Linked DNA regions of Homo sapiens: region 2 is linked to region 1. Evidence: fine-mapped expression QTL. Tissue or cell type: whole blood. Region 1 holds a variant in brackets; the other region holds the start of a gene. All regions are shown on one strand. Distances are from middle to middle.

Region 1 (14,800 bases):
GCTGGGAGGGCACATGTGTTGCCTTTTCTCAGAACCACCCTTCCGGCAGGAGGAAAAGCTGGGGTGTGATAGCTATGTGACCCCATGCAAGGCACCTCCTGCTCTGGGCTCTGTTTCCCTCTGTCATAAGGAAGCCGAGCCCTAGCATCCCTTCTGGCTCCCAGACCTTCCGAACTCCCACTGACAAGTGGCTTGGTTCAGGCTTTCAACACAGGACAGATAACTGCAGCTCCTCCCTTGGCCCACTGGGCTCTCAGGCCAGGTTGGGTCTGGGGTCTGCACCCTCTGGTCCTTTTTGGCTTCAAATTCTATTCAATCGTCAGCATTTCAAGTGGCCACAAGCATCTCTGTTGTTTCCTGAATGCCCCAGGCCTGGATTCAGGATTTCTTATTCTGGAGAGTACCAGGACCCTGGGGTTTCCGTCTGGTGTAATTTATAATGGCAAAACTCAGCCAGTGGGAGGTGCATGGGTCCTTGCTGCTTATTTTGCTGATTGACAGACTGAGGCCCAGGAGAGGGATGGCTTCCTCGAGACCCTGACTCTGTGAGTTAGGGACAAAGCTGAGACTCAGTCCTGGCTTCCTCCACTCTCTGCTGTTTTCTTTCCATCATCCTTTCCTACCTCACTTGAAAAGCCTCCAGAAGGCCGTATTTCCCTAAGCTCTGCTTCACTGTTGTCTCCAGAAGCCCAGTAAAACAGGTGCCTCTGGAAAGCACTTGGTCTTAGGACAGAAGCTGGTGCTGGAAGTAATTGGGGGTGGGGTACAGAACACCAGTGTCAAGAGAAGGAGACTCTGTCTTCAGGACAGCAGATGCTTGTGGCATATCCTTGAACGCCCCTCACATCTCTGCTCTGTCTGCCGTGCGGGAGGGCATGGCCACCTTGAGACTGGCTCTGTGCCTGGAGTAAGCATGTCACGTAGGATCTTCCTTCAATCTTTACAACCTTCCTGTGACCTAGGAAAGATAATCCCTGTTTTGTAGAGAACATAGGCTCAGAGAAGGTCTTGGACTCGCATGAGGCCCTGTCACTAGGTAGCTACAAAGCAGAGACTGGACCCAGGGCCGGCTTTGTTCAGGGGAAGAGGCTCTGTGAATGTCAGGCTGAGTCAGCGTGTGGATTGTGCAAGACCCGGAGGCCAGCAGGGCAGAGCCTGAGAGCATCGCCTGCTGCTGGTGATTCGCCTTGATCTTGCTGAGGAAAGGCCTCTGGGGCCTGCAGGAGTTGCCAAGTACTTTTATACACGCTTAAATGAAATCTTGCAAGGAGCCAAGGCCATTAAATCATGGGTGAGAGGCTGCCTTTGACCTGCTTGGAGCTGCATCTTTCTCCTCCAGTTCAGCAGGGCCTGGCCGGGTGTCACTTCCTTTTGTGACTTGATTGTGCTTGGGTAAAGTACCACAAGCTTGCTCGTGTGGTAAGTGGATTTCTTGTGTCTGGACTCTGGCTGGACCAGCCCAGAGTGCCCCAAGAGGACCTCCTGCCTTTCGCAAGGTCATTTGCCTAAGGTGAAAGGTCAATATTTAATCTTCACAGTGACCCACAAAGAGGCCCTGCTGCCTTGTCCACCTGCCCTGGTTGGGACACAGCGTGGTCTCACTGCCTGACAGTGTGGGTCATTTGGCTGTAGAGCTGCACAACCCCAAAGCCCCCCTGTGGAATTCCTACATCCCCGGGCTCTTGTGTGAGTGCCCGTGTGTGGAAGGCAGCTGCTCTGTGGGTGGTAAGATACTGTGTTGCCAGGGTCAGAGGCATCCAGGTTTGGTTCTTAAGTCTGCCACCAGCTAGCCGTGTGACCTTGGGCAAAGGACCAAATTGCTCTACATTTGAGCTTTCCCATGTGAAAAATGAGGGTAATTGAGCCAGAGTTATGGGATATGGAGGGATAGCCTTAGGTCCATTAAGTATTTAATGCAGCGCACAGCTCCCAGGAAAGGGCAGCTATTCACAGTGACCATAGCAGTTTAGGTGCTCGCTGGTCCAGCAGAGGAGGCTGGCCTCTCCTCAAGCTGGGCCGGAGCTGGGCCCCGTTCTTCAGTAGGTAATTCAATTAGGTCATGGGAGGGAGACAAAGAAGGTCACTTGAGGCTGGAGGGCACTCAGCTGAACCCTCACTCCCAGAAGATTGGCAGCCAGGGCTCACAGCAGCCAGGGCTTACCTGGCCTGGCCCCATGGACCATCTGCTGCAGAGTTCCAGGGAAGGGTTCCGTGGGGTGAAGCGGGCCAATGACCCAGTTCATTCATGGGACCGTTATGTGAGCTCTCAGGCAGATCACTTCCCCTGTCTAGTCCTCCCTCAATCTCCTGGTCTCTGAAACCAGGTTTGTTGGTACTCAGAGTTCCTGCCCTGGGCCACTGTTCATTGAACCCATGATCTGACATGTGATCCCCAAGTTCCTGTCTTTCCGGTGTGAGTTAACTTTAGTTCTTCCTTTAAAACAGAATGAAAACAACACAAGGCCTTATTCTTTTTTTTTTTTTTTTTTTTTTTTTTTTTTTTGAGACGAAGTTTTGCTCTTGCTGCCCAGGCTGGAGTGCAATGGCGTGATCTTGGCTCACCGCAACCTCCACCTCCCAGGTTCAAGTGATTCTCTTGCCTCAGCCTCCTGAGTAGCTGGGATTATAGGCATGTGCCACCACGCTCGGCTAATTTTTTATTTTTAGTAGAGATGGGGTTTCTCCATGTTGGTGAGGCCGGTCTCAAACTCTTGACCTCAGGTGATCCGCCTCCCAAAGTGCTGGGCCTCCCAGCACTCGGCCTCCCAAAGTGCCGAGATTTCAGGCATGAGCTACCACGCCTGGCCAAGTCCTTATTCTTAGAGCTGAGAGAAAGAGAACTGCACGCAGTGGTGGGGAGCTGGCTTCCCCAGTAAACACAGAGTCAGCCAGGGCTTTCCCTGGGGGCCTTGAGAAGAACAGCAAGCGAGGGAGGGTGTGGTCTGTGGGCCATATGCAGAGCGGTAAGCGGCCCTACAGCGGCCCTGCATGTGGGGAAGGGGCGATTGGAACAGAGGTGAGCAGGAGCAGGCCTACCTTTGCATGGGCACTGTGCCCCTGAGGGTGGGGATATGAACTGCTCTTGAGGTCGAGGGTCTTTTTTGAGAACTTGTGCAGACCAAAATTCCTTTTGTGAAACCAGTCACCTCTTCCTATTGTATCTATTTAGTCACTATTTAGTCACCTAGGAGAACAAAACAACTAAAACAGCACCTCAGCGTGAATTCACAGAAACCTATTAATATAGATGGAACTGACGCTGTTTTTTTTTTTTTTCTTTTTTTTTGGGAGACCTGGTCTTACTCTGTTACCACCCAGGCTGGAGTGCAGTGGTGCAATCTCACCCTTGACCTCCCAAGTTCAAGCAGTCCTCCCACCTCGGCCTCCCTGGTAGCTGGGAATACAGGCATTTTTTTTTTTACAGCTAATTTTTTTAGAAAACCTTTTTTTTTTTTTTTTTTTTAAGAGATGGGGGTCTTGCTATGTTGCCCAGGCTGGTCTTGAACGCCTGGGCTCAAGCAATCCTCCTGCCTCAGCCTCCCAAATTGCTGTGAGCCACTGTTCTCAGCCTGAGGCTGGTATTAATGTGGGAAACAATACCCTTAGAAGTCAGACTTAGTAGTCAAGGTGAGAGAAGGGGTGAGCTGTGAAGTGCAGTGTGGAGGAGAGAGGGGAGCTCCAGCAGTGGTTTTGTTGAGTGTCCTTAAGGTAGACTTTTCTCACCTGTCCCATGTGGCCCCACAGGATGAGCGGACTGTCATGGAAAGCTGTTAGGCAGGGGCTGGAATGTCTGTTGGGAATGCTGGATGGGGCATCGGCCTCTGGGCTTGTTCTGCTCTGACCATAGGCAAATGCCCCTGTATAGAGCTTGACCCATGCACCTGGGCCAGGCTGAGCTTTTCTTGGCCCACATTTGCTCTGAATGCCTTTGGATTGAATCACACCCAGAAGTGTGCCTGGGGGTAGCTAGAAGGACCCAGGCAAGCACTGTCCTGGTCTTGAATCCTGGGGAGTCACTCATGCCTGCTCTGTGCCTACTGAGGGCCAAGCCCTCCTCGTTGTTGGGCTGCAACTCTGAACAAAACAGGTAACATCTCTGGCCTCAGAAGGGCTTAGCTGGGGAGACACAATAGAGAGACAGCCCCTGTGGTCTGGGATCAGTGCCGCGAAGAAAATCAACAGAGGAGGTCACACATGGAGGATGGGGAGCAGTTCCACTCAGGGTGGTAAAAGGAGGCCTTGAACGCAGTGAGGGAGGAGCCAGGAATGGATATGGAGGAAGAGCATTGCCGGCTGAGGGAACAGTGTCCAGGCTCTGAGGCAGGGGTGATTTTGATGACTTCAAGAAACAAGAATGTCAGGGTGGCCCAGGGAGTGGCGTTGGAGCAGGGAGGTGGGAAGGAGATGCCGTGGGAGATGTGTGTGAAGCCTGGCTGCAGAGGCCCTTGGGGGCCATGGGAGAGACCGTGCATTTTCTTCTAGGTCTGCGTGGGAAGTCACTGCAGAGTTTCGAGGAGGGGAGTTCCCAGCTCTGTATTTTTGAAGGGTCAGTCTTGTTGCTTGGACCAGTGAGGAGCCCCGTGGGATCCAGACTCGAGTGGGTGGAGCCGGGGCAGGTGGGAGCAGAGACACTGGAGGAAAGCTGGTCGAATGCACTGTGTATTTGGAGGCAGAACCAGCAGAGGGTCCTCTGGGTTGAGTGTAGGGCAAAAGAGAAAGAAGGCACCAAGCCTGGGGTCTGGGTTTTCTCTCTTACACTTGCTGGGTGGACGGTGGTGCCACTGAATGAGACGGAGAAGAGTTGGGGGGAGCTCGGTTGGGGTTGGGGGACCAAGGCTGCGTAGTGGGGCACAGTAAGAGTAAAATATCGTTAGCTGTCTTAGGAGGACAAGTAAAGTAGACATTAGGGTATTTGACCGGGGGCATGGCCAGGACTGGACATCTGAGTGTGTCACTCAGCAATGTTTAGATGGTATTTAAGCCTTGTGAATTATGAGATCATCGAGAGGGCTCAGGGCAGGGTGAAGGAGCTAGGACTGTGAGTGAGGCCCACCAGCATCTAGAGGGGTCTGAAGGAGGAGGAGGAGGAAGAGCAGGGAGGAAGGCAGTCAGGGGCATATGCTTGGGGTCCCCGAAGCAGGGTGTGTCAGTGGAATGGTTGGAGGAGGAGAGAATGACCAGCTGTGACCAATGAGGTCAGATACCATGAGGAAAAGTCTTGGCCTCCAGCTTTGGCAAGAGGGAGGCAGGTCCCTGGGGGCCTTGAATAAGATGGGTGGGGATGGAGCCTGCAGGATTCGGCAGGTGGTGACCAGTCACCTTCAGGTTGCTCAGCATGCCAGTGTAAGACACCTGGGGAGGGAAAGGAAGCGGTCATGCATTCTATCAGGAAAACCCTTCCCAGCTAGTCAGTTCAGGGGGAGGACTGAGAAGCGGGAAAAGGGTGTGGTGTGATATGGTAGAAAGGGCTCTACCCCCTTGGCTTGGTGCTGTATCCAGTACTTGAGACGGTATCTGGCACTCGGGATGTACTCCGTGAATATTTGTTGAATGAATGAGTGAGGAGTGAATGAATGAACTGAGACTTGTGATTCAGCCCTTCTCCCCACTGCCTGACATTTTGGTCTTGGCCCTCCCTGGGCCCCAGTGCTCTGCTTTTGTAAAATGGAGGGATTGGTTCTTGGTGGGGGTTCTTTACTTAGTGTTCACAGACCATTGTGGGAGCCAGCAGTGGGAAGCTGTGACCCCTCTAAAATTTCATGCAAAATACTGGGCATGTGTGCATTTTCTGAAAGTGATCTGTGATCCAGAAGAGGTTGGATCACAGATCACTTTCAGGTTGGATGAGACTTCCTGGGGCTTTCCTTGAGCCCTTTCTTTCCATTCTAGCCCCTGGGGCTAGTTACTGAGTAAAATAGGTAGAAGTGGCTCAAGGCTTGAGATCACCGGTAGTCATAGAGAAGCGTGGTCCTGTTATTTATCGTGAGATGGTGATAAATGGCAGTGAAATGCCAGTGTGGTGTAAAGTAGTCACAGAAAAACAGGAGGCAGCTTTATTAACAGAGCCCACGTTGTGTTTTGTTGTATATGGAAAAGCCCTCCCTGGTTCAGGAACCTGTGTGATGTATTTGGGTGGGCGCCTTTCTGTTGTGGTGCACATGGGGTATGGGTTCCTGCAGGTGGGAAGTTGGGGTTGGGGGTGGTGCTCCTCTGGGGCGAGCTCATTGCTTAGAGCAAGCCTATTTTCATTCTCTAGCTAAAAGCCCAGCCTTTCCTGAGCATAGATGCGCCCCCTGCTCATTGTAGTTAACAGTAGGGAGGAGGCTCAGCCCTGGCCAGTGAATGGCCTGGGCCACTGGATAGCTGCTTATCTGTGCCTGGAGTCTATCTCCAGGGCTGGAGAGCTGGGGTGTGTGGCAGAGATGCTGGGCTGTTTCCCCCTGTCCTCACCCTGTGGTGGTGCCTGGTCCTATGCAGTCTCATCCTGTGTTGGGAACCTCTGAGGGGACCTGGGTCAGCCCTCCCAAGGGGTGATGTCTTCGTATACACCAGATAGTGCACTGAAATGAGTTCAGGGTTGCAGAAAGGGGAAGAAGCAGCACAGCCTGATGTCTGTGACCCATAGTCTCTCCAGGGTGGAGTCCGCTCTGAGATCTTTTCCTCTTCCTTCCCTGGGGCATAGGGTCATCTGAGGTTGAAGGAGTTTGTCCAGATATTCAGGAAGGTAGGTTCAGGTTATCTGTCATCTGCGGGGCCTGAGGGGCCATGTGGGATGTGAGCTAGGAGCATGCCCTACCTGGCAGTGTGGACTTTGCTCTGTGAAGCATGTTCACAGTGCTGGTTTCCAACCTAACTTCCTTCTCTCTTTCCTCTGCCCCGCTTAGTTGGCTGGAGTTGTCTTCCTTGGAGTCGGGCTGTGGGCATGGAGCGAAAAGGTAGGTGTAACTGTCGCAGGACACTGAGCTTCAGGCAGCCAAAACCAGATTCGTTGGACTTCATTTTCCCTCCTCCAATCTGTTCCCTGACAACAAGCATTTCTTGTGCAGTGTCAAGGTGTATAATTGTCAATCTTTACAGACACAGCTCTTGCGTACTCTGCCCACATGATAGTATTGGCTGCTGGAGGTATGGGCTGGGCTGGTTGGGTTTTGAGCCCTGTGGATGTGGAGAGCTCAGCTCTTGTATGCAGCTGTGCCCAGAGCAGGCTTGGGCA[A/G]TCCAGCTTCCTGACCCTGTCTGTGCCTCTGGGAGCAAGCGGGCAGGTCCCTGAATACAGGCATGCTTATTGTGGAAGCCCTTATCCTCCAGGATGAGAAAGAGCAGGCAGCAGGGAGCGGGGCTGGGTGACATGCCCCCAGGGTGCCCTGTGGGGCAGGGGTGGGCCTTTAAGCACCTCTGGGCCTCCTTGCCCAGCCTCAGGAGGAGAGGGGAGGAGTGGAGACCTGGCTCCTACTGTCGGGAAGGACATGGTGCAGTTGCGGCTCCAGGAAGGGGATGAGACTGGATATGGGCAGGGTGGGGCTGTGCTGCTGCTTGTTGCCCTGTGGCAGGGGTGCTGGGGAGGCAGTGAGGGCTGAAAAAGGCCAGGGAGGGAAGAGGGGAGGGGAGGGAAGCAGTAAGGTGGAGCAGGCCTGGCCAGAAAGAGCCAGGAATAAAGCTTCCTCTAGTGTCTTGAGCCTAGGCCTTCTTCCTTCAGTGGAACCTCCCTTTGCTTCCAGCAGGAGGAGGCAGGAGAACCTAGGTCTACAGGCTTTCCTGCCATGGTCTTAGGGACTGGATAAGGCCCACCTTCAGGTTTGGGCACCTTCCAAGTGGCCTGTGAACCCCTAAAGGGCAAGAGCTGGGGTACGATGTCCCTTTGCCCCAGTGACCCAGAAGCAGGTTCAATCTGTGCCTCACAGCACCACCGTGTGGCTTCCCCTGGGACTGCAGCCGCCTAACTGGGTGTGGCCCTGAGTGTGGAGCTGGCTACTACAATTCCTTTGAATCTGTCGATCTAAAATAAGTGAAAAGGCCAGAACCTAGTTTAGAGAGAGTTTATTCAAGCACACATGTTGAGGACAGGCCTACCCAGGAAGCACAAATTCCAAAGAATGGAAGTCAGCCTTCCTGTTCGAAATGTAGGAGCTTGGGATCATTTATCCAGCCAAAGCCAGACAGAGACTCTGTTGCCCAGGCCGGAGCGCAGTGGCTGGATCTTGGCTCACTGCAACCTCCGCCTCCCTGGTTCAAGAGATTCTTGTGCCTCACCCTCCCAAATAGCTGGGATTACAGGCATGTGCCACCATGCCTGGCTAATTTTTGTATTTTTAGGTAGAGATGGGGTTTTGCCATGTTGGCCAGGCAGGTCTTGAGCTCCTGGCCTCAAGTGATCTGCCCTCCTCGGCCTCCCAAAGTGCTGGGATTACAGACGTGAGCCGCCATGCCCAGACACCTATGTATGTCTTGATGCTTAGTCACAATGTTCTGATTAGTTGAGGCGGTCTTTTTCTTTCAGGAAAGGTATGTTTAACATTCCACACTGAAGATGTAATTGTCCCTGGGTCTTAGATGATATCTGATCTGAGTTAGTAAAGAACAATGAAGGAAGCAGTTAAACTATAACAGAGATCAGTGACTGGAAGGGGGGCTGTGGTCTCTCCGGTCCCTTAGTTCAACCATAATCTAAGAAACAGAATTGCAAACATGCTACATGACTCAGTCTCCAGGGCTTAGCTTCCCCCTTGGCGTTTTACAAACCCTATGGAACTGCTCTGCCCATTGTGTGACTGTGTTTATATTTAAATTGAAATTGAATATAAATTAAAATTCAGTCCTTCTGTCTCATTAGCCACATTTCAAGTGCTCCACGATACCTGTGGCCAGACAGTGGGGGTATAGTCTAAAACACCTCCATTGGTGTAGAAACTTCTATGGACAGCATTGCTTTGGCCTGCCCTTGGGCGTGTTTTCTACTAGAGTGTTCATATTGAGGCTGTTTTCATCTCAGAAGAGTAGTGTTCTTCATTAATTAGGTGCCAAATTGGGGGACTAACAAGGTCAGCCACCTGGGTGACCAGTTTGACCACAGGCCACAGGGCCCCGTTTCCCTCCAGGCCTGGAATAGGCACCCCACAGGCTGCAGAAGAAGCCTGGTGGCTGCCTAGGAGGAACTTGTAGCGTAGGTGGAGGCCAGGAACACTTTCTGGGACCTGAGGTGGGCAGGGATCGCCTGGTCGGAGGGGCCCCTAAGGGCATGGATGGGGCCGGACTCTGGCCTGGCTGTCAACAAGAGGGCTGAGCCTGGGGAAGCAAGTCCCTGTTTTCAGTACCACCTGCATCCCCCAGGGCAGCATCCTTGACTCCCCTTCTGGGCCAGTGCTGCCCTGCTTTCTCTGTCTCTTTCAGGGTGTGCTGTCCGACCTCACCAAAGTGACCCGGATGCATGGAATCGACCCTGTGGTGCTGGTCCTGATGGTGGGCGTGGTGATGTTCACCCTGGGGTTCGCCGGCTGCGTGGGGGCTCTGCGGGAGAATATCTGCTTGCTCAACTTTGTGAGTGGCCACAGAGACAAGAGTGGGATAGGATGCAATGGGGTACAGGCTCTGCTGGGCAGGATTATATGTTACCTGGTCAGAGCAGGTGGCAGCTCTTAGGAGCCTCCCCTAGGCCCCTGCCTGGGAGCAGGAGGCAGCCATTTGCACTCTACTGTCTAGAGAAGCTGGTTCCTCCCAGCAGGAGAATTAGGTACCCTCTGGTTTTTAGCCCTGGGTGGGAGGAGCCAGCTGCCTATAGGCCAGCTCTACTCCCCGCTCCTTTGCCTTTTATCTTCCTTCAGAAATTCTAAAAGAATTGTTTGTCTGCTACTGTCCTTTGCCCTTCCTGGCTAAGATCAAAAGATGTTGCAAGTAACCTTAAATCATTTCCCTCCTCCAAGGATGTGTGAGTCTGTTGGATGTACAAGTCAGAATCCCAAATTTCCTGGCAGAACTGCAGATTACTAAGAGTTTAGTTTTATATTTAGATACAAATTCATGTTTAGATTTATTCAGTTAAATAACACCTGGTGGGGAAAACACATTATCATATTTTGCAGTATATTGTTTGTTGACTTCATTAGATCAAGCTTTCTTTTTCTTGGACATAATTTTAAAAGCAAAACTATGGGCTTTTTGTCCTAATTTTTTCTCTGGAAAAAAAAAAGAAAAGCTATGTTTAGCATCTTGCTTTTATATGAACAGAGATTACGTTTTGGCAGGCCTTGTGTGCATATGTGTGTTTCCTTTTTCTTTTCTTTTCTTTTTTTTTTTTTTGATACCGAGTCTCGCTCTGTTGCCCAGGCTGGAGTGCAGTGGCGTGATCTCGGCTAACTGCAAGCTCCGCCTCCCGGGTTCACACCATTCTCCTGCCTCAGCCTCCCGAGTAGCTGGGACTACAGGCGCCCGCTACCATGCCTGGCTAATTTTTTTTTGTATTTTTAGTAGAGACGGGGTTTCACCGTGTTAGCCAGGATGGTCTCCATCTCCTGACCTTGTGATCCTCTCGCCTCGGCCTCCCAAAGTGCTGGGATTACAGGCGTGAACCACCGCGCCCGGCCGTGTGTATGCTTTTTCTTACTTTGAAAGATTACTCCAAATTGGCCGGTTGTGGCAAGCTGCTTAGTGTCTTATATGGCCAGTGATAATGTCTGTGAGAGCGCAGACTGCAGGCTGGGAGTCTGCCCTGATGGGATGTGGACCTGTGGCTGCACTGGCCCCTTGCAGAATGCCACCACTGCTTGTGGCCTGGGGCAGCTGAGCTTCTGGAGGGGTCTTTATGCTGACGATCATATACTTTCATGCAGAGTTGGTACAGATAACATTGGCACTTCCAGAATTGTAAAGAGCCCTGCAGGGAACTCACATGTCCTGCATGAACTATGTGACCTCAGGCAAGCTATGTACCTCGTGACATAGCCATAGTTTCCTCATCCCTAAAGTGAGGTAACAGATACGTAGGCACTCGATGGTTTTGTGTGTGTAGTGGGGAGTCATCAGATAATGTCTTGGGCACAGTGTCTGTCCTAAAGGAGCCGACACCCCAGGATGCCACCCTGGAGGGTCCAGGTGGAACTGCTGGGGTAGGACAGCCATTCATTCCTGTGATAGGGGTCTCCTCCTTGTCCAGGGAGGAGGGCTGCTTCATAGCAAGTGATTGACACATTGGCTTGGAGCTTTCTCACACTTTTTCACGCATTTGAGTGTTATCAGCAATGCAGTGACATGGGTAGGGATAAATAGCCCCTTTTTACAGATGAAGCGAAGTTGTGCAGAGTCACCCAGCTAACTCTAAGTGTGGGGTTCTGGGGCCCCGATGTGGGACTCTCAGGTGCAGAGCCCACGCTCTGCTGAGGATGGTGGTTCTGGGTCAGGTGGGGTTATGTGTGTGGGGGTGCAGGCTGGTGGGGTGGTGACTTCTGCTCCCGTCCCCTTCCCCTGCAGTTCTGTGGCACCATCGTGCTCATCTTCTTCCTGGAGCTGGCTGTGGCCGTGCTGGCCTTCCTGTTCCAGGACTGGGTGAGGGACCGGTTCCGGGAGTTCTTCGAGAGCAACATCAAGTCCTACCGGGACGATATCGATCTGCAAAACCTCATCGACTCCCTTCAGAAAGCTGTAAGCACCTCCCCAGCGGGCCCCCGATAGAGCATGCACCTCCCTGTGCTGCCTGGAGCTGAGTCTAGCAGGGGCATCAGGCCTTCTCTGTGGGTTGTCTGCCTGCAGCTTGGCAGACAGCAGGGAGGCCGTGGAACAAGCCACTCCACCTCTGGTCTGTTCCACTTTGCCGGCTTGTGGTTGCCTGGTGGGCCAGCCCTTTCCCATTGGGATTGGGCAGGCAAGTCCAGCTGTACCCGAGGCCACCCACCCCCCACGTGCCCGGCCCTCCTCTTTCGGCCCCAGATCTTTCCAATCCTGCCCAATAGCCATACCAGCTGCAATCCTCCTTAGGCGCTGCATACCGTAAGGCACAGCTTCTTCCCCCCGGCTCATGACTCACCATCTGACGCTATTCCTATCCCCTTCCTCCCCGGGACCTTTTCCCCTTCCTCCCTGGGACCTTTTCCCCTTCCTGTTTAAGAAGCCAGGGCTGCCTGGAGGAAGCTTTGTCAGATCTAGTGGAATGTGACCTCCCTGGAATATGTGCCCAGGGGTTTGTCTAAGCAGTTCCAGGCTATGGCCTTTACTCCATCTGGTCCCCATCCCTCTTATCTCTCTCATGTGTGGCTGCACCTGGACGCTTGGACCATAGCTGTCACAGCCCCCTGGGGAGGAACCCACTCCTTGGCCATGTCAGCCTGTGCAATGCAAGGCTCTTGTTTGATCTGTGTGCTGACAGAAAGCCCAGCTTCCTTAAGAACTTTTCATGTGGAACACTTTGGTTTTGAGAAGAAAATAAATCAGAAACCATTAAAAATCTATGATTCACTCTCATTATTAACCAAAACTTGTTCACCTTTATTTCATGTATTATGGGATCCAGCAAAACCCATTTATGGGACCAAAGACCCTGCCTGTATTGTTATTACTAATGTGTATTAGTCTGTGAAAGTCACCAAATCCCCGCCATGTTTTGATGCCTCTCCTTTCTTTTCTGTTCAGTGCCACCGTCCTTTTTTCATTTTCACGTAGCCTTGGCTTGCCTGGTCTCAGCATGCTAGGTTGCGGTTCATCCCTGCATTGCCTTAAAAACATAGTTTTCTGCATTGACTTCTTTTTCTTTTAAAAATAAAACTTCTGGCCGGGCGCGGTGACTCACGCCTGTAATCCCAGCACTTTGGGAGGCTGAGGCGGGTGGATCACAAGGTCAGGAGATCGAGACCATCCTGGCTAACATGGTGAAACCCCATCTCTACTAAAAATACAAAAAATTAGTGGGGTGTGGCGGTGGGCACCTGTAGTCCCAGCTACTCGGGAGGCTGAGGCAGGAGAATGGTGTGAACCCGGGAGGCGGAACTGGCAGTGAGCCGAGATCACGCCACTGCAGTCCAGCCTGGTCAACAGAGCAAGACTCCGTCTCAAAAAAAAGATAAAATAAATAAATTAAAACAAAACAAAACAAAACTTCCCAGGGGAGGGATTCAGTAAATTACAGAGCTTCCTTGGAGTGAAATTTCAGGTAATCACTAAAGCAAGTGGAACCGTGGAGGTGTGGGGGAGACAATTTTACCTGAGAAGTAAGCAAAACAAAATAACCAACCAGAAATCACTGTTGTCATTTGTTGTGATTATTGCCATAACCATGTCAGCTGTAAGGGCAAATGCAAAGAAGTTTTTTAGGGGAAAAGACACTGTCAACTTCACAATGATGCTTTCAGTGTTTGGATTTTACACACTTTTTAGTCAAATAAGGATTTTCTTTGTAGCCACACCAGATGCGAGGAAGGGGAGGGCAGAGGCCCCAGGTGTGGGGCAGAGCTTTGATTGTGTTACCTTTCACCTTCATCGGACCTCTTTTCCTCAGGAGCAGACACTTAGCAGCTGTTTTTTGTAAAGGGGTGAAAAGGGGAATTCACTTGCAAGTTTCTCAGGGAGGAAGAACACTGCACACTAGGAAGTGTTCTCTTGTGGCAAGTAGAGGACCACACCAAGGTGCCGAGGGGGCCACAAAGGAGAGGACGCCACTCTCCTGTCTGAGGAGGCTGGAAGGAGGCGTCTCCTTTGAGGAGGCTGGGAAGAAGAGCAAGCTCCCTGCTAAGGAGGGCCAGGGCTGGGTATGTTGTGCCTGGCAGTGGGGCCAGAGGGCTCCACTGAGCCAGCCATGTGGGTTGGACAGAGGAGGCACCGTGGCCCGGAGATACCTTCACTGCCATTTCCTTTTTGTTATTATTTTCTTTAACACATCAAAAGGGCAGGTCCTCTCTCTCTCTCTCTCTCTCTCTCTCTCTCTCTCTCTCTCTCTCTCTCTCTCTCTCTCTCCCCTTTTTTCTTTCTCTCCTTTTCTCTTTCTCTCTCTCTTTCCTTTCTTTCTTTCTGATTGGGGGTGGGGGTCTTGCTGTGTTGCCCAGACTTGTTTCCAACTCCTGGGCTCAAACCATCTTCCCACCTCAACCTCCCGAGTCACTGAGGTTACAGGCCTGAGCTACTACGCCTAGCTGTTTTCTTCTTAAAGGGCTGCCTGGGTTGCCAGCTTAGCATCTCTGCACATGGGAGGTAGGGGGCGGGCCTTGATTTCTCTGCATGGTAGATGCCGGCAGACTTAGCCTGGCATCACTATGAATGATGCCCTATGCTGGGCAGCCATGGCCCTGTCTTGGAGCCCCTAACAGTTCTGGCTTTTGTGGTTGCAGAACCAGTGCTGTGGCGCATATGGCCCTGAAGACTGGGACCTCAACGTCTACTTCAATTGCAGCGGTGCCAGCTACAGCCGAGAGAAGTGCGGGGTCCCCTTCTCCTGCTGCGTGCCAGATCCTGCGGTGAGTTGGCTTGTGCTGGGGCACAGGGAGCCCGCCCTTCCTGAAGCCCAGAAGCTTTCCTGACTCCTCCAGTGCTCTAGGATACTTCTCTGTCATGGAGGTCTGAGGAGCAGGTGTGCTTTCTCCACACCCTCCTCAAGGCTGCCTCAGCTCTGAAATCCGATATGTGTACATTCTAGGAACACTGCTTGCATGACCCACCCTGGCCTTGGTGTTCTGGGTGAGGCAGGAGAAAAACAGTATTATTTCTACCTGGAGGGCTGTCACTTGCAGCTGGCCAAGAGCTATGAGTGAAATAAGGCCCGCTTATCCCTCTTCCCTGTCCTTTTTCTGGAGCAGATTCCTAGAACTCAACAGTGCACGGGGGCTGTGGG
Region 2 (14,800 bases), 51 kb before region 1:
CTGCTGTCCTCCAGTTTGGGGCTCTCCTCTTGTTCTGAACACCAATCCTTCCCACCTTCTCCAGCAAGCGTTTTCTCTCTTCCTTCAGACTCTCTTATCTCCCCTCTTCTCTTGCCTTCTCCCTTCATCATTTAAACATATTTGAGTCTCTCCTTTGTTTTTCTTGTTATTTTCTTTTAATAGAAACAGGGTTTCACTATGTTGCCCAGGCTCACCTGGAACTCCTGGGCTGAAGCGATTCTCCCACCTGGGCCTCCCAAAGTGCTGGTATTACAAGCATGAGCCATCGTGCCTGGCCCAAGTCTCTCCTTTCTTAAACAAACACCCTCCTGCAACTGCTTATCCTCATCATCTTCCAGTTAACAACCTCTCTCTCATTTTCCAATTGCTGTTCAGCCCACTGTTAACTGTCTTTGACCCAATTCTCCACTGAAACAGTTCTCTGAAGCTATTAACCCCATGGTTGCTCTTCAGCCTTGTTTCACTGGCCCTCTGCAGCCCTGGAAACTGGACCACTCCCCTCTTCTTGAAACACTTGTTGCCCCTGGACTTCCATCCATTCCACCCTCTTGGCTTTTCTCCTACCTCACTGGACAGTCTTCCTCAGTCTCTTTGGTCCCTCTGCTCTCTCGTTTTCCAAAGATTCTGTCCTTGGTCCTTTTCTCATCTCCCAGTCCCAAAATAATCTCCTCTACTCTGATGATTTCAATTATCACACACTGCTTCCTCAATATCGATTCTCCCTTCTTTCTTTAAAACAGGAGTTAATTTTTTAAACATTTCCCAACCTCCTTTGGAGTTAGGGTTTGTCATGTGACTGCACTCGGCGAGTGAGGCATAAGCAGTAGTCTGGGGATTTCTGGGTAAGTTTTAGGTGTTGCCCCTTCATTCTTTTTGCTCTTTCTTCTGTCTGGAATGTGGGTGGGAAGCTGGAGCTGGGGCAGCCATTGTATGACCACAAGCCAACTCTGTCCCCTAAGGAGAGCCAGACACACCAACAGAGAGGAGCTGGGACCTGATGACGTTGTGGGGCTGCTGATCAGCCTTGCTCTGCTTACCTTTAGACTTCTTGTTGTGTCAGAATTTTTTCCTACAACTACAGCGAGAAAGCTGAATGTAGTTAAGGCAATGTAGTTGTGTTGCTATTTTCTCTCCCCTCCCTCCCTCCATCCTTTCCTTCCTTCCCTCCTCCCTCCCTCTTTTCCCTCCTTTCCCTCTTTCTCTTTCTCCTCTCTCTCTGTTTTCTTTTTTTTTTTTTTTTCCTAAAGAGATGGGGTCTTACTATGTTGCACAGATTAGTCTCAAACTCCTGGGCTCGAGTGATCCTCCTGCCTCAGCCTTTCAAAGTGTTGGGATTACAGATGTGAGCCACCGCACCTGGCCTTGGGTTATTGTTAGAAAAGCTAAACACAATTTCAAATGGATACAACTTCCAAACTGATAACTTCTGTTTAGCTGTCTCTCTTAACTCCATACAGCAAATTGCACCTCTCCACCCTACCCAGGAACACTTCAAATGGAAGAGGTCTAAGGCATCACCTCTCACCAAACATATTATACATCCACACAGGGTCTCTTGTGTTCCTTCTCAGTGAATAGCGCCACTGCCCACGCAGCCAGAATATGATGTCTCTTTATTCCTCATTCTCCCATGCAATTAGTCACTTGTCAGTTCCAGCTCCTAAATATATCTTGATTCTGTCCACCTCTTTCTATTTCCTCATCATTTCTTTTCTAACCATTTTTTATTCCAATCTTGCTCCCTCCCACCTTCCCTTCCCACTCCAGCCTTAGGGATCTTTCTAAAGTACAGATATAACAATGTCACCATTCTGCCTAAAACCTGCCCAGGGCCTAAAGAATACTTGGTATAGAAGACTGCTAAAAATGATGATGTTGGCCCTGCACACACCACTACCCCTTCTTCTGCATAGGCCTTGCCCTACTGATCATAGGCATGGGCATGTGACCCAGACCTAGTCCAATTACGATATCTCATCTCCCTCATCACGCTGGTTGTGTCAGAGTTTGTTTGGCTCTCTCAAGCCACTCCATGTTGCTGTAAGAATGGGTCCAGGAGTGAATATGTGACCAGAGCTGACCCAATTAGGATCCTTTTCTTTTCTTTTTTCTTTTTTTTTTTGAGATGGAGTCTTCCTCTGTCGCCCAGGCTGGAGTGCAATGGCACAATCTCAGCTCACTGCAACCTCCATCTCCCCTGTTCAAGCACGATTCTCTCACCTCTGCCTCCTGAGTAGCTGGAACTACAGGCATGCGCCACCACACCCAGCTAATTTTCCTACTTTTAGTACAGACGAGGTTTCACCACGTTGGCCAGGCTGGTCCGAAACTCCTGACCTCAAGTGATCCGCCCGCCTTGGCCTCCCAAAGTGCTGGGATTACAGGCATGAGCCACTATGCCCGGTCGATCCTTTCTTGAGATTTGTTCATACCGACTTAAGAGTGTAGACTTACTCAGTCACATACCTGACATGGCAAACTCTGAGAACTAGGAGAAACAGAGGGTAGGGCCCCCGTTCTGGGACGTTGTCAGGATCAGCCCCGTTTTGTGTCACTCTGGTTTCAAGTTCTTCTTTCAATTCTGTGAGCAATCTGAGGCTCCTTCCAGTATCTCCCCTTTGATGACCTAAGCTAGTCTGAGTGGGGTTCTCATTTCCAGCCAAAATGTCCCGACTAATCCTTGGTAGTCTGGTCCTAATAAGACATCTTTCCTGGGTAACAGAGTTCTTTACAGCTTACCCAGTATTTTTCGAAGTTTTACAAACTTTATCTCTTTGGATTTTTATTACAAGCTTGTGAGGTGGGTTTTAGTATTACCTTGACTTTACAGATAAGAACAGCAGGGCTCAGGAATGTAAAGTGGTTTGCTCAAGATCATGTTGAGAACTAGGAGAGCTTGGACACCAACTCCCTCTTCTGTTCAATCTCACCCTGACCTGCCCATTGCCCTGTAAACACACACAGAGGCTGCAGAGTGGAGCCCAGGGTGGGAGTGCAGCACTGGGGACCGACACAGAGGGCTATAGAAGTCAGGGGAAGACAAAGGGCAAGCTCTTCCACTTACAATTTTATCTGTGGCAGCTTCAGGTCCAGGAAAAAGATAAGAAACTCTCAGCTTTTTTCTTTTCCTCCTTCCTATACTGTTTTTTGTTCCCACAGTCCATACATTAGGCTTGCAGTCTGCACTACAATTCAGTTATATGCTTGGCAATTATGGTTCTAGGTGCTAGCCAGGAAGGTAAACCACTGGTTACAATACAACCCTTTTATGAGTTGGGGCTGTCTATATTGAATTTTTTATTTTTTAATAAAGGAGAATAAAATAGACCTGTTTTGCATTTCGTGTCTCTGAGGCTCTCTCAAGCCACTCCATGTTGCTGTAAGAATGGATCAGATAGGCCAGGCACAGTGGCTCACGCCTGTAATCCCAGCACTTTGGGAAGCCAAGGTGGGCAGGTCATGAGGTCAGGAGTTCAAGACCAGCCTGGCCAACATAGCGAAACCCCACCTCTAATAAAAATACAAAAAATTAGCTGGGTGTGGTGGCACGTGCCTATAGTCCCATGAATCCAGGAGGCAGAGGTTGCAGTGAGCCCACGCCATTGTACTCCAGCCTGGGTGACACAGTGAGACTCCGTCTCAAAGGAAAAAAAAAAGAATGGGTCAGATAAAGCTCTGTGGGTCTCTGCTACAGCTGGGAATGGCAGGTGAGTGTCAGATGTGACTGTCTGGGGCATGGCAGGGAAGGCCATGCTGGCTTTGTGGGTATTCCCACCACACTTTTCATAGCAGCAGTGTGGCCAACTATTCCAGAAAGGACACATCTCCCAGACGCTGCTCAGGCCAGCAAGATCTCCAAAACCGCTCAGTCCATGGTTTGCAAAACTGGCTTCCCCATCTCCTTCCTCCTTGTTCTAGCTCATGACCTCCTGCACATGCAGGATTGAGCAGAAATCACCAGGTGTGAGTAATCATCTTCCCAATCCCAGCCTTTACCGGAAACCTCTCCTCGGCCTCCACACTCCTCTCCTTAATGATGGTGGAGGCGTCCCTTTGTAGGAGGTGACCCTCGTTAGTGCCTATACCCTATCTCCTTTCACCTGCTCTTCCTATCATGGCCCCTGCCTTCTTCTTAGATCATTCCTATCAGTGTGCAAGCCTGCTTCAGTGACTCCCATATTTTAACAAACCCCTCTTTATTCCAACAAATGTTAGAATTAGATGTGGCTACATGTGCCATAAAACAGAGGATTAAACAAGACAGAAATGTCCTTCTCCCATAAAGAAAGTCAAGAGGTAGTAGTCCAAATGTGTGGTGGCTCCCTACACATTAGCATCCACATTTATTCTCACTTCCACTAACATCCTCAACACTTTGGCTTCCACTTAAGATCCAATATGGATGCTTGAGCTCCAGCTATCTATTAATATATCCTAGTGGGCAGGAAAGAGTAAAGCACATGACTTCCCTTTAAAGCCAGTTTTGAATTTGCACATGGACTCCTACACTTACTTCCTATTGGGAGGAATGAAGTGTAGCTGCAAGAGAGGCTGAGAAACTTGCCTTTATTCTGGGAAGCCATGTGGCCAGACAGAATTAGAAATTCTATGAAGGGAAGAGAGAATTACTACTAGGGGCATCTAGCAATCTCTACCAAAGCATCCTATGCTTCCGTATCCTTTCTAGATCCCTCCCAGTTCTCCATTCCCTGTTAGACAAGTTGTGCAAATATGGTAGCTCTACCACAGCATGGCTTCCACCACTACTCCAGGAACACTGCCCTCATCATGTTCACCAATTGCCTTCATGTTGCCAGAGCCAACAGGTCCCAGTCCTCATCTTACCTGATCTCTAAGCAGTGTCTAACACAGCTGACAACTGCTTTCTGGAAACATTTTCTCAGTCTCTGGGATACTCCTGATTCTCCTTCTGCCTCCCCAGTCTCTTTTTCAGTCTTCTTGCCTGCTTTGGTTCCCCTGGGTCCCTCCTGAACTCTCTCCTCTTCTGCATCTACTCCCTCACCCTGTGTGTCCTTCTCAGATCCCGTGGCCTTGAGCATCTTTATGCTGATGTATCCCAAAGCCCCTCTCCCGCCCTGGCCTCTCTTCTGAGTTCCTAGTGATGAGATAACCCCGCTGGTTCTCTAACAGGCATCTGAAGCTCCATGTGGCTTGAACAGAATTCCTGATGTAACTCCCTGAGATGTGGTTCATGCTTTTTGATCCAATAAATGAAGCACTATCCACCCACTTACCCCAGCCAGAAACTTGAGTTATCTTTGGTTTCTCCATTTCCTGCCCCCATGTCCTTCCTATCAATGTGTCCTCTTAAGTCCAAAATAGCATCTCTCAACTACTCATCTTAGCATGACCACCACTTTGGTTCAAACCACCATCATCTTTGGCCTGGATTGTGGCAAGCCTAATTGGCTCCCTGCTTTTATTTTTGCCTGACACCCACACACAGCCTTAAATCAGAACATGTTAGTCTTCTGCATAAAACCCTTCCAAGGCTCAACAAAGTCTCCATTCTTTGACACAGCCCACAGGCCCTGCATGCTTTGGCCCCCACCCACCTTCTCACTCCATCCTGGGCCTCTTCCCCTAGGCTTAAAACTTCAGCCACACTGATTTTCTTTCAGTTCCCTGACCCATCCAGAACTTACCCTGAAAAGGCACCTACTGCTCTCAGCGAGGAATGTCTCTGCCCAACTTTTCCCAAGGCTAACTCCTTACTCTTTTGACTTCAATTTCAGCATCGCCTCCTCACTTTCCCTGACTGCTTCATCTAAGGTAGCTTTTATTCTCTATTCTAGCCCCTTGTTTTTGTCCCAGCCTTTACTTCAACTTGTGATTATGTATTTGTCTTCTCCACTAAAAATTAACTTTATTGGGCAAAAGGCCTCAGCTGTCTTGTTCACTGAAGTATCCCACCATGCACACAGGGCCTGGCATATTATCAGGCACTCAGACAAACACTCACTATCTGCTGAATGAATGGACAGGTTCCCAGGGAGTTTCCAGAGCTGCCTGGGCTGTCACAGACAGGTTGCATCCCTCTTAATTAAACAAACAAATAAAATTAGCCAGGCACCGTGGCTCATGCGTGTAATTCCAGCACTCTGGGAGGCAGAGGCGGAAGGATTGCTTAAGCCCAGGAATTTAAGACCATCACTGGCAACACAGCAAGATCTCGTCTCTACAAAAAAAAAAAAAAAAAAATTAGCTAGGTGTGGTGGCCTGCACCTGTGGTCCCAGCTACTTGGGGAAGCTGAGGCGGGAGGTCGAGGCTGCAGTGAGCCATGGTCATGCCACTGCACTCCAGCCTGGGTGACAAAGCGATACCTTAGCTCAAAAAACAACCCAAACAAACCTGGGAATGGACTGAACAGTCTCCATTTCAAGATTTCCTCCTTCCATTGGAATTAACCTGTTGGTTGCTTGTACTGGCATGTGGCAACCAGTCTTAGCCCAGTTTTAATAGATCCCTGTTTGGTGTTACTCAACAGAGAAGACCACTCGGCCCTCAGCCACCGAATAAGTTTAAGAAACAGAGGTGTGGCATGCTTCATTCTACAGGTAGGGAGGCTGAGGCTGGGGAGCCGCCCCTGGCTATCCCTGGAAACCCCTCTACCCCACAGGAATCGTCCCAGCCATCTCTTTAGCGTAAAGGTGAGGAACAAATCTCAGCCACGATCCAAAGAGGGGCGCCACCCCTGGCTGTCCCTGGAAACCCCCCTACACCACAAGAATCGTCCCAGCCACCTCTTTAGCGTAAAGGTTAGGAAGAAATCTCAGCCACGATCCAAAGAAAGCTTGGTATTTTTAGCACCAAGGCCAGAAGGAGCGTGTCCTTACTCCTTGGTTTACAAAGAAATAAAAACCTTTTCCCCATCCTTCTTTTGATTGAAGACTACCCCCGCCCCCAGGCTCCAAAGCCGGGCAGGAACGCCTCTTATCTCCACCACAGCCATTTTCCTAATCCTTCGCCCGCTCTCCACGGTCATCCCGTGTATCCCTCGAGACGCCGCCTCCCACAGCTCGTGCTTCTCCCAGGTTCGGCTCCGACAAGGCCAGAGCGGCGTCTGCGCAGCGCAACGGCTCAGAGCGCTCCCGGCGGCTACAAGTGCCCGGCCCCGGGCCAGGCCCGGCCTGCGCCGCGCACCCACTGGGAGGGCGCGGACCGGGGCCGCCCCAAGCCTCCGGCACCGCCCAGAGCGGGACAAAGGGGCGGGCCGGCGACCCGGCCTCGCGGTCCCCGGTGCCGCGCGGGCCGGGAGGCGGGGTGCGGTGGGGGAGGGGCGAGGCGGCTGGGGGAGGGGCGGGGCCAGGGCGGGCCCAGGCGCCCGGGGCCGCACCGGGCGGCGCAGGGAAGCGGCGCCCCTTCCTCGGCAGACGGCAGGCGCCGCGCCTCCGGCCCCGCCCCTCCGCGCCCCTCCGCGCCCCGCCCCCGCCGCTCGGACGGCCCGAGTCGCGCCCTCCCGCCCCGCGCCGCGGAACTTGCTCTAACTTCCTCGGCCGAGCCGGGCCGCGCCGCCGCTGCCGCCGCCGCGCGCGGGTGAGTAGAGCGCGGAGACCTGGCTGGGGCGTCGGGCCCTGCCCCTTTCTTTGTCTGAGGCCGACTTCCCCGAGCGTTCTCCGGGGGCGAGGGCTGCTCCTTAGGTCCCTGTTTGGCCCCTCAGCCTCCCTCCCCGCCTGCCCAGGAGCGGCCCCGCGGGCGGCGCTGGCTTTGTCTGCCAGGATTGCTCGCTAGAGGTTGGAGGCCTCCGCCGGGACCCCGCTGAGCCGAACTCCGGCGCCGCGCGGACGAGAGCCGCGGCGGGCCCGGGGCCGGCACTCCTGGTTCGGTAGCCCTCGCCCCATCAGCGCGCCCCGGCGAGTGCGCGCCCGTGCCGGGCGGGGTGAGGGCGACGGGAGCCTGGACGGCCGCTGCTGCTCGGGGCTCTGCTTCTCGTCCCCAGCAGCGAGCTCGGGGATGGGCCACCCTTTCGGCTCAGTCACCCACCCTCGGCTCCCAGGAGATCGGGTCCGGGGTGGGGGTGGGCGTAGGCCGGGGCGGGCCGCCCCTTCCTCCTGCCCCGCCGTGGTTGTGCTCAGTCTCCCACGCCGCCGTGGGTCCCACTCTGCCCGGCTTGGGTTTGGGACGGCCGGAGTTTGAGTAGGCGGTGACCCAGCTTCTCCGCGTTAGTCGTGTGGGGTTGTGTTTGGGAGCAAAGCCTGACCCCTGACCTAGCCGGAGTTCTGGTAGAGTGAGGTTTGTGGCTGCGGACTGTGCTTGTCCCGGGCCGCTGCTGCTTCTCCTCCACCCCCAGGGGTGGGGTGCGGGTGGGTAGGAAGTGCCTGTGTGAGGGTGTGTGGAGGGACTTTGGCCCTGGGACCGCAGGAGCACTTGTCTTGGGGACTTAAAGTTGATCTCCGGCGAGAAACAGTCCGTGCTAGGGGGAGTCGGGGGAAGTCGTGGGCCCGGGTACTGGCCTGGGGCTGGGCGCAGAGCGGTGGTGAGTGCGGCGGTGTCACACACTCGTTGGCTGTGCTGGCGCTGCTATCCGGGAGGTCAGGCGGTGCTGGGCGGCTGTGCAGAGCATTGTATTGGAGCCTCTGCAGGTGTGCTCTTGGCAGTGGTCTGCTCTCCAGGGGATCTTCCTCCCTTCCGAGAGGGAGTTGCTCTTGGGCTAGTGAGAGAGTGGCCTGCCAAATCCTCAAAAGTAGCCTTCCCCTTGCCCCTTGACCTTGAAGTCCAGAAGCAGTTAGTGCCTGCTGAGTGCTCCGGCCACCCTTCTCTATTTGTGAAGGGAAACCTGGGGACAGGCCATCGGAGCACCCCTATGTCCTTGCCACATTTCAGCTAGCCGAGTGGTTGGTGGGGGCGGCCGTCTTTCCAGGGATCTTCCTGGGCCCTGGCACCCCCAGAATGAAGCCCAGACTCCACCATAATGGCCCTGTATGCCCTTCTATCCCCTTAGCTGCTGGTGTGATCATAGCCTCAAATTGCTGGGCTCAAGTGATCCTCCCACCTCAGCCTCCCAAAGCACAGGGATTACAGGTGTGAGCCACCACGCGCAGTCTGATCCCACTCCGATCCCTAACGTTATAGTGACAGGCCCTGGAAACCCAGGGCCACCAGATGTATTTTCCCTTTCCTTCTCATTGTGTTGCACCCCAACTTCAGTTGGAGACTCTGGATATATCCATCCCCACATCTCTGAACTCCACTGCTTGGGCCACCTAATGTCATCCTCAGTTTAGTTAACAAAGCATGGTTGAGATTTCTGTGGGGTGCGAGGCATTGTTGCAGGCACTATTCCAAGTCTGGAAAGTCCCTCACCAGCTATGAACTTGGTGTGGTCTTAGAACCCAGGCTGGACATGGCATAGGTGCTCAGTAGTGTTTATTGATCTGAGCTTGATCTCAGCGTAGCAGGATCATTTAGGGAGACGGGGTTGTGGGGGGGGTCTGAGCCCATGGGTGCTTCTGAAGGTTTGTGGCTGCCCCAGGAAGAAAGGGCATGGAGCTGCAGAATGGTTGGCTGCCCAGGGAATTGTCCCCTTCACCAGCTGGGCAGCTGTGCTAGTCTCTGAGGACTGGTGAAGGTCCTTCTCATGTAGGAAGTGGCAGTATGAAGTGGGAGAGGAGATGGCTCTGCCCTGAAGGTTGTGGCGGCAGTGAAGTGAAGTTCCCATGGAGGCCGGGGAGCAGGAAAGCCCTGGGTTCTGGAACTATTTCCTGAGGCCTCACTCTATGCCACCATGTGCTCAGGAATTTGACCCATTTAACTTCAACTGAGGTAGAATTCCTTTTAGCAGTGCCTGCAAAGTGGCATTGTGCCAGGCCTGGGAAACCTTTGCTGGCTTAAAATTTAGTGAAGGACAAGATTATTTCATAGTGATACTAATGTGAGTTTATTGAGACTTACACCCTAGAAGTTTGACTTGTAATAACTCATTTAATCCTTGAAAACAGCTGTGATGGCTGGGCGTGATGGCTCATGCCTGTAATCCCAGCACTTTGGGAGGCCGAGGTGGGTGGATCACCTGAGGTCAGGAGTTCAAGACCAGCCTGACCAACACGGTGAAACCCTGTCTCTACGAAAAATACAAAATTAGCTGGGCGTGGTGGCACATGCCTATAATCCCAGCTACTTGGGAGGCTGAGGCAGGAGAATTGCTTCAATCTGGGAGGTGGAGGTTGCAGTGAGCTGAGATCGCGCCGTTGCACTCCAGCCTGGGCAACAAGAATGAAACTCCATCTCAAAAAACAAAAAACAAAAAGCAAAACAACCGTGATGTCAACAGCTCCATTTTACAGATGAGGAAACTGTGGTCCCGAGAGGTCACAGAGTAACTTGCTTGAAGTCTCAATATGAGCTGGGTTTTCTCATTTCTTTTTTTTTGATACTGAGTCTCACTCTATTGCCCAGGCTGGAGTGCAGTGGCGTGATCTCGGCTCACTGCAACCTCCGCCTCCTGGGTTCAAGTGATTCTTCTCCTGCCTCAGCCTCCCAAGTAGCTTGGACTACAGGTGTGCACCACCACACCCAGCTAATTTTTGTATTTTTAGTAGAGATGGGGTTTCACCATGTTGGCCAGGCTGGTCTTGAACTCCTGACCTCAAGTGATCCGCCCGCCTCGGCCTCCCAAAGTGCTGGGATTACAGGCGTGAGCCACTGTGCCGGACCAGGTTTTCTCATTTCTAATTTAGACAATATGTTCCTCTCAGAGGTGATTAAAATGGATTCATATACCAAACAAGCCTGGCCCACAGTGGAACTAATGAATGTTTTCAGTGAAGGTGCCCTTGTATCCCTGCCTCTGAACACATCTCATCTGTCCAGCACAGCCTGGGCACATAGCAGGTACCCCGGAACCCCCGCTGATTGGTGATGGAGCTTCTGTCTCCCTAAGGCCAGGGAATGGGAAGACCAGCACTACCACATGCAGAAGATTGGGGAGTCACTGCTTGTGTCTGTCTGGACAGATCACGGTTTGCTGTGGTAACAGCAATCCCCAGGTCTCAGAGGCTTAAAGCAACAGAGGTTTATTTCTTGTTCACACTGCATGTTCATCACTTATCTGCTTTATGTTGTCCTCACTGGGGGGACCCATAGTGATTAGTGGGAACACCCCTGGTGGCTTGGACAGAGGGACAGAGAACATGATGATCCCTGTGTCCTGCCACTGAGTCCTGGTGGCCTTTAAGATGCCTATGGGAAGGGGATTAGGTTCCTGCTGCCTGTCTCTGCCCTGCCGTGTCAGTCCTTGGATATCTTGCATGTTCCATCCGCTACCTGGATGTGGCCTGTAGGGGCAGCCACCTTTCCTAGAAGCAGGAGCAGGTAGCGATACCCAGGCAGGCCTGGTCCTCCCCACTTTTGTGGGACTCGGGGATTGAGCTTGCAGGCATAGGGGTGTAGAAAGCAGTGGTAGCGAGGTGACTGAAGGTGGACTCCCACTGGGGATGGGATTGAGTGTGGGGCTAGATCCCTGGTCTGTAGAAGGGAGTAGGAACCCTGTTAGTTAAATTTTCCCCCTCAGGCCACGTTAGTAGGATTTTGAAGAGTCAGCCACACTGTGGCTCTTGATTTTGTGCCTGGTCACCTGCTTGGTCTCTGGTGATTTCCCTCGGGGCCAGCAGACACTGTTGGAGGTGGTGAGGCCTCAGGTTCTTCTGCTTCATGGTTAACTCACTCTGCTTAGGCATATTTCCACCTTTTCCAGGGCCTCCGTTTTTCTGCCAGTGGATTGAGAGGTGGTGGTGGTCTCCAGCAGTGGTCTCACTCTTGGCAGGCTATCAGAGTACCCAGGGAGCTGCGTAGAATGAAGTTTTGAGAGTCTTTGGTCTAGGTGAATGCCAGCGTTTCAGTTTGCTTATCTTCCATTATAGTAGTGTCCTCTGTAACTGTGAATCAGGGAGGTTATTCATAATATCTCCACATCCATTTTCTCCCTTAATTGCGTATGCTTTTGATTTAGACAGGGCAAGTAGCCATTTTGGTGGAGCGCAGGCCCTGGCAGGGGGGCAGTGTCCAGTGCCGCTCTCAATTAAACGTGAAGATGTGAAGATGAATAACACTGTCCAGCTTGCAGAGTGGACGGTGGTGAGGCAAGCTTTCAAGTTGCACCTACTTTCTAGTTGAGTGACCTACACAAGTCTTTGATTTTTTTTTTTTTTCTTCCTGGAAAAAAAAAGTTGTCTACTTTTCTCATCTGTAAAGTGAGAAGAATCAAGTCTGCCTTTTCTGTCTCACGGGGTTGCAGTGAAGCATTAGTACCCTGAGAAGCAAGATCCAAAGCCCCTGAGTTAGGCCTGACACTGGTGTGAGACAGCTGCCATCTCTGGCGGCACTCAGCAAGTGTTCACCAGCAGCTGATTCTGGGAACCTCACTTCCTCCGCCCTTGGGCTTGGTGGGGTTGGGTAGGGTTGGGTGGGGCTGTGGTTTTCTTTTAGGAGGCAGCAGGCCAGGCCTGGAGACCAGAGCTTAAGTGGGCCTGGGCAGGCTGGGGTTGAAACTCTTCACCCCTTGCGGTCTGTACTGCCTCCCAACTGAGCAGCCAGGGAGAAGGCCTAGAGCCTGTGCCTTTCAGCTAGATAGCTGGAGGAACTGGCTCCTCCCTCCTTAGGCTGTGCTGGCCTGAGCTGGGAGCCTGAGAGCTGGGGCAGTTGTCTCTAAAGTGGCTTCTGGGATTCTGGTAAGAGGTGAGCTCCTGGTGCTGCCTCAGAGTCTTTGTGTTTCCTGGCATTTGGGAGAGCTGGAGTTGGGCTGTCCTGCATGGGTAAGGTTTGGGGAGGGACTGGAACAAGGGGCTAGTGAACCTTCTCTGGGTTTTTCCTGCCTGACTATGCGTTGACAGTCCCAGCTGTTGGGCCTGTGCTCCTGTACACTGCACGGCCTTGAGAGGAGTTCGGAGCCCTAACATCCAGGAGAGAGGCCCCACAGCAGTGGAAGGAAATGGGCCTCTCCCGAATCTCTTGTTTGTACCCCGAGGTCTGAGTGGTGATCCTGGGGATGCTATGGGACTCTCAGCAGTAGGAGTGTGTCTGTCCCCAGTCTGGGTGCCCACCAGCTGTGCTGAGGGTCCTCTCCTGTGTCCCTGGGCCAGGCAGACAGGGTCTTTTTCTGGGGCTTGTTAGGGGAGGTCAGCCACAGCCCCAGACCAAGTAATTTACACACCCTGAGTGAGGGGTGGGAGCAGTGGGTCCAGGAAGACTTAGGGAGCTGGTGAAAGAAAAACTTAATTCTGACACTTGTTAAACTGGTAAGGTAGACTGTATCAGGACTATTACGATAGATGTAGGAATTATCGCAATGGATTTTGCAGTAGAGGGGAGAGAGTGGGCCAACTCCAAATACAACAAAGAAAAGTGGGAACTTATAGCCAAGGAGCGGAGTGTGGGGGCTCCTGAAAATTTCTAAGAGGGTAGGGAAATTTTTACTAAACTTAGCTAACTGAATTCTTGCTGCAGGCAGGCCAGGGTGATCAGGTTTTACCTGGGAGATAGTACAGGATGAGAAATACGTTCAGATATCCAGGGTGATTAGATATTGAGGTTGGGGGATTCTGGTTAACAGGAGTTTTGCTAAAACTAGGCTCTTAGAGAGAATGGAGTTAGGAACCCTAGGTCAGGACCAGATGAGTAGAGGGCTCAGAGGAATAAAGTTTGGTGAGGGACAGAATCTCTGTCAGTATCCCGTGGTTGGCAGTGTCCTGTCCATTCTTCTTGCACTGGCCTGTCCCTCAGGAGACAGGTGTGAGTGGTCCTGAGCTTGGGCCAGTGTAAGAGTAGGGGACAGGTTTCTCTCCTTGTAGGTGTCCCTTCTTGTAAGTGTCACTCTCTTTTTTTCCAGAAACCTTGGTCCTTTTCAGCATCTGCTGGCCCCTTGTCCCTTGGCTCCCTTGCTCTTGGCCTGCTGGATTTCCCCTCTGCACCCAGGAAATCGCATGGACCTGGGTCCTTGTTTCCCTACAGCCCACCAATTTTGCTGCTTTTTTCTGCCCCCTGAAGCTGAGCTCCTGCTGCAATTTGTGTTCCCTGCTCTCCCTGTCCTGGGCAAACCAGTCTGACAACTTTGTGGTTCTCGCTCCCGCCTCCATCAGCCTGGGGATTGACTGTCCCATTTGTCTGAGCTGGGCAGAGGGAGGTGCTGTGGGGGATCTCTTCCTCTTGCCTGGACTGCACACTCCTGCTGCCTTCTAGCCGGAGCTCCTGGGCATTTTGCCTATGGGAGCTTCACCAGCTTCCTTCTGTCTGAGGCCTACAAGTCCCTGCCTCCAGCCTACCTTGTTCCTCCTCCATGAGTGAGGCTCCTCCTTTTCTCTCTGGCCCTCCTGTCTACTTGATCAGACTCTGCCTCTCTTGAGGGCCGGCTCCCTCCAGCCTACCCTGCACAGGTGACCCTGTTTGGCCTGCCTCCTTTTCTTGAGGCTGATCTTGTCTCAACAGTCAGCTTTTCAGGAACCAGGCCCTTGCTGTTGTAAGGAAAACCTGTCGGCTGTGGATGGGGCCTTCCCTCCTTCCTAAAGGCTCTGTAGCCAGCTTCCACCCTTGCAGTGGAACAGTGGTGGTGCCAGAACCCTGCTCTCTGCAGCCATCCTGCCTACCACAGTCATTGTGTTTTGTAACTCTAGTAGCTTCTTGTGAAATACAAGTGATGGTATAAACGTGGATAGGTTTTTGAGGGGGGCATGCCAAAATCAGAGTTGGTGGTAGTGGTGGGGGATTCATTCCCAAGGGCTCTGGGGTGCTAAGTGTGTGAGCAAAGAGGAACAAGTGGCATGTGCC

What was found. PIP is the estimated chance that this variant, and not a neighbour inherited with it, causes the effect.
Region 2: it holds the start of TSPAN14, and the variant in region 1 is fine-mapped to the expression of TSPAN14 in whole blood (TOPMed, PIP 0.98).

What each region holds. Positions count from the first base shown.
Region 1 is chr10:80,497,844-80,512,643 of GRCh38, forward strand. TSPAN14 (tetraspanin 14) reads left to right here. Exons shown (of 9, transcript NM_030927.4): 3 at 6,885-6,935; 4 at 9,385-9,531; 5 at 11,458-11,628; 6 at 14,301-14,426. Among named protein-coding and RNA genes, the nearest start is that of TSPAN14-AS1, 31 kb to the right of the region's middle. RefSeq lists an enhancer at 1-474 and a silencer at 1,990-2,284. The variant A/G (reference allele first, on the strand shown) is at 7,214.
Region 2 is chr10:80,446,793-80,461,592 of GRCh38, forward strand. It overlaps TSPAN14 (tetraspanin 14), which reads left to right and starts at 7,518. Exons shown (of 9, transcript NM_030927.4): 1 at 7,518-7,579. RefSeq lists silencers at 2,801-3,095, 7,114-8,163 and enhancers at 6,874-7,083, 7,827-8,344, 8,294-8,553, 8,584-8,633, 11,351-11,430 and 1 more.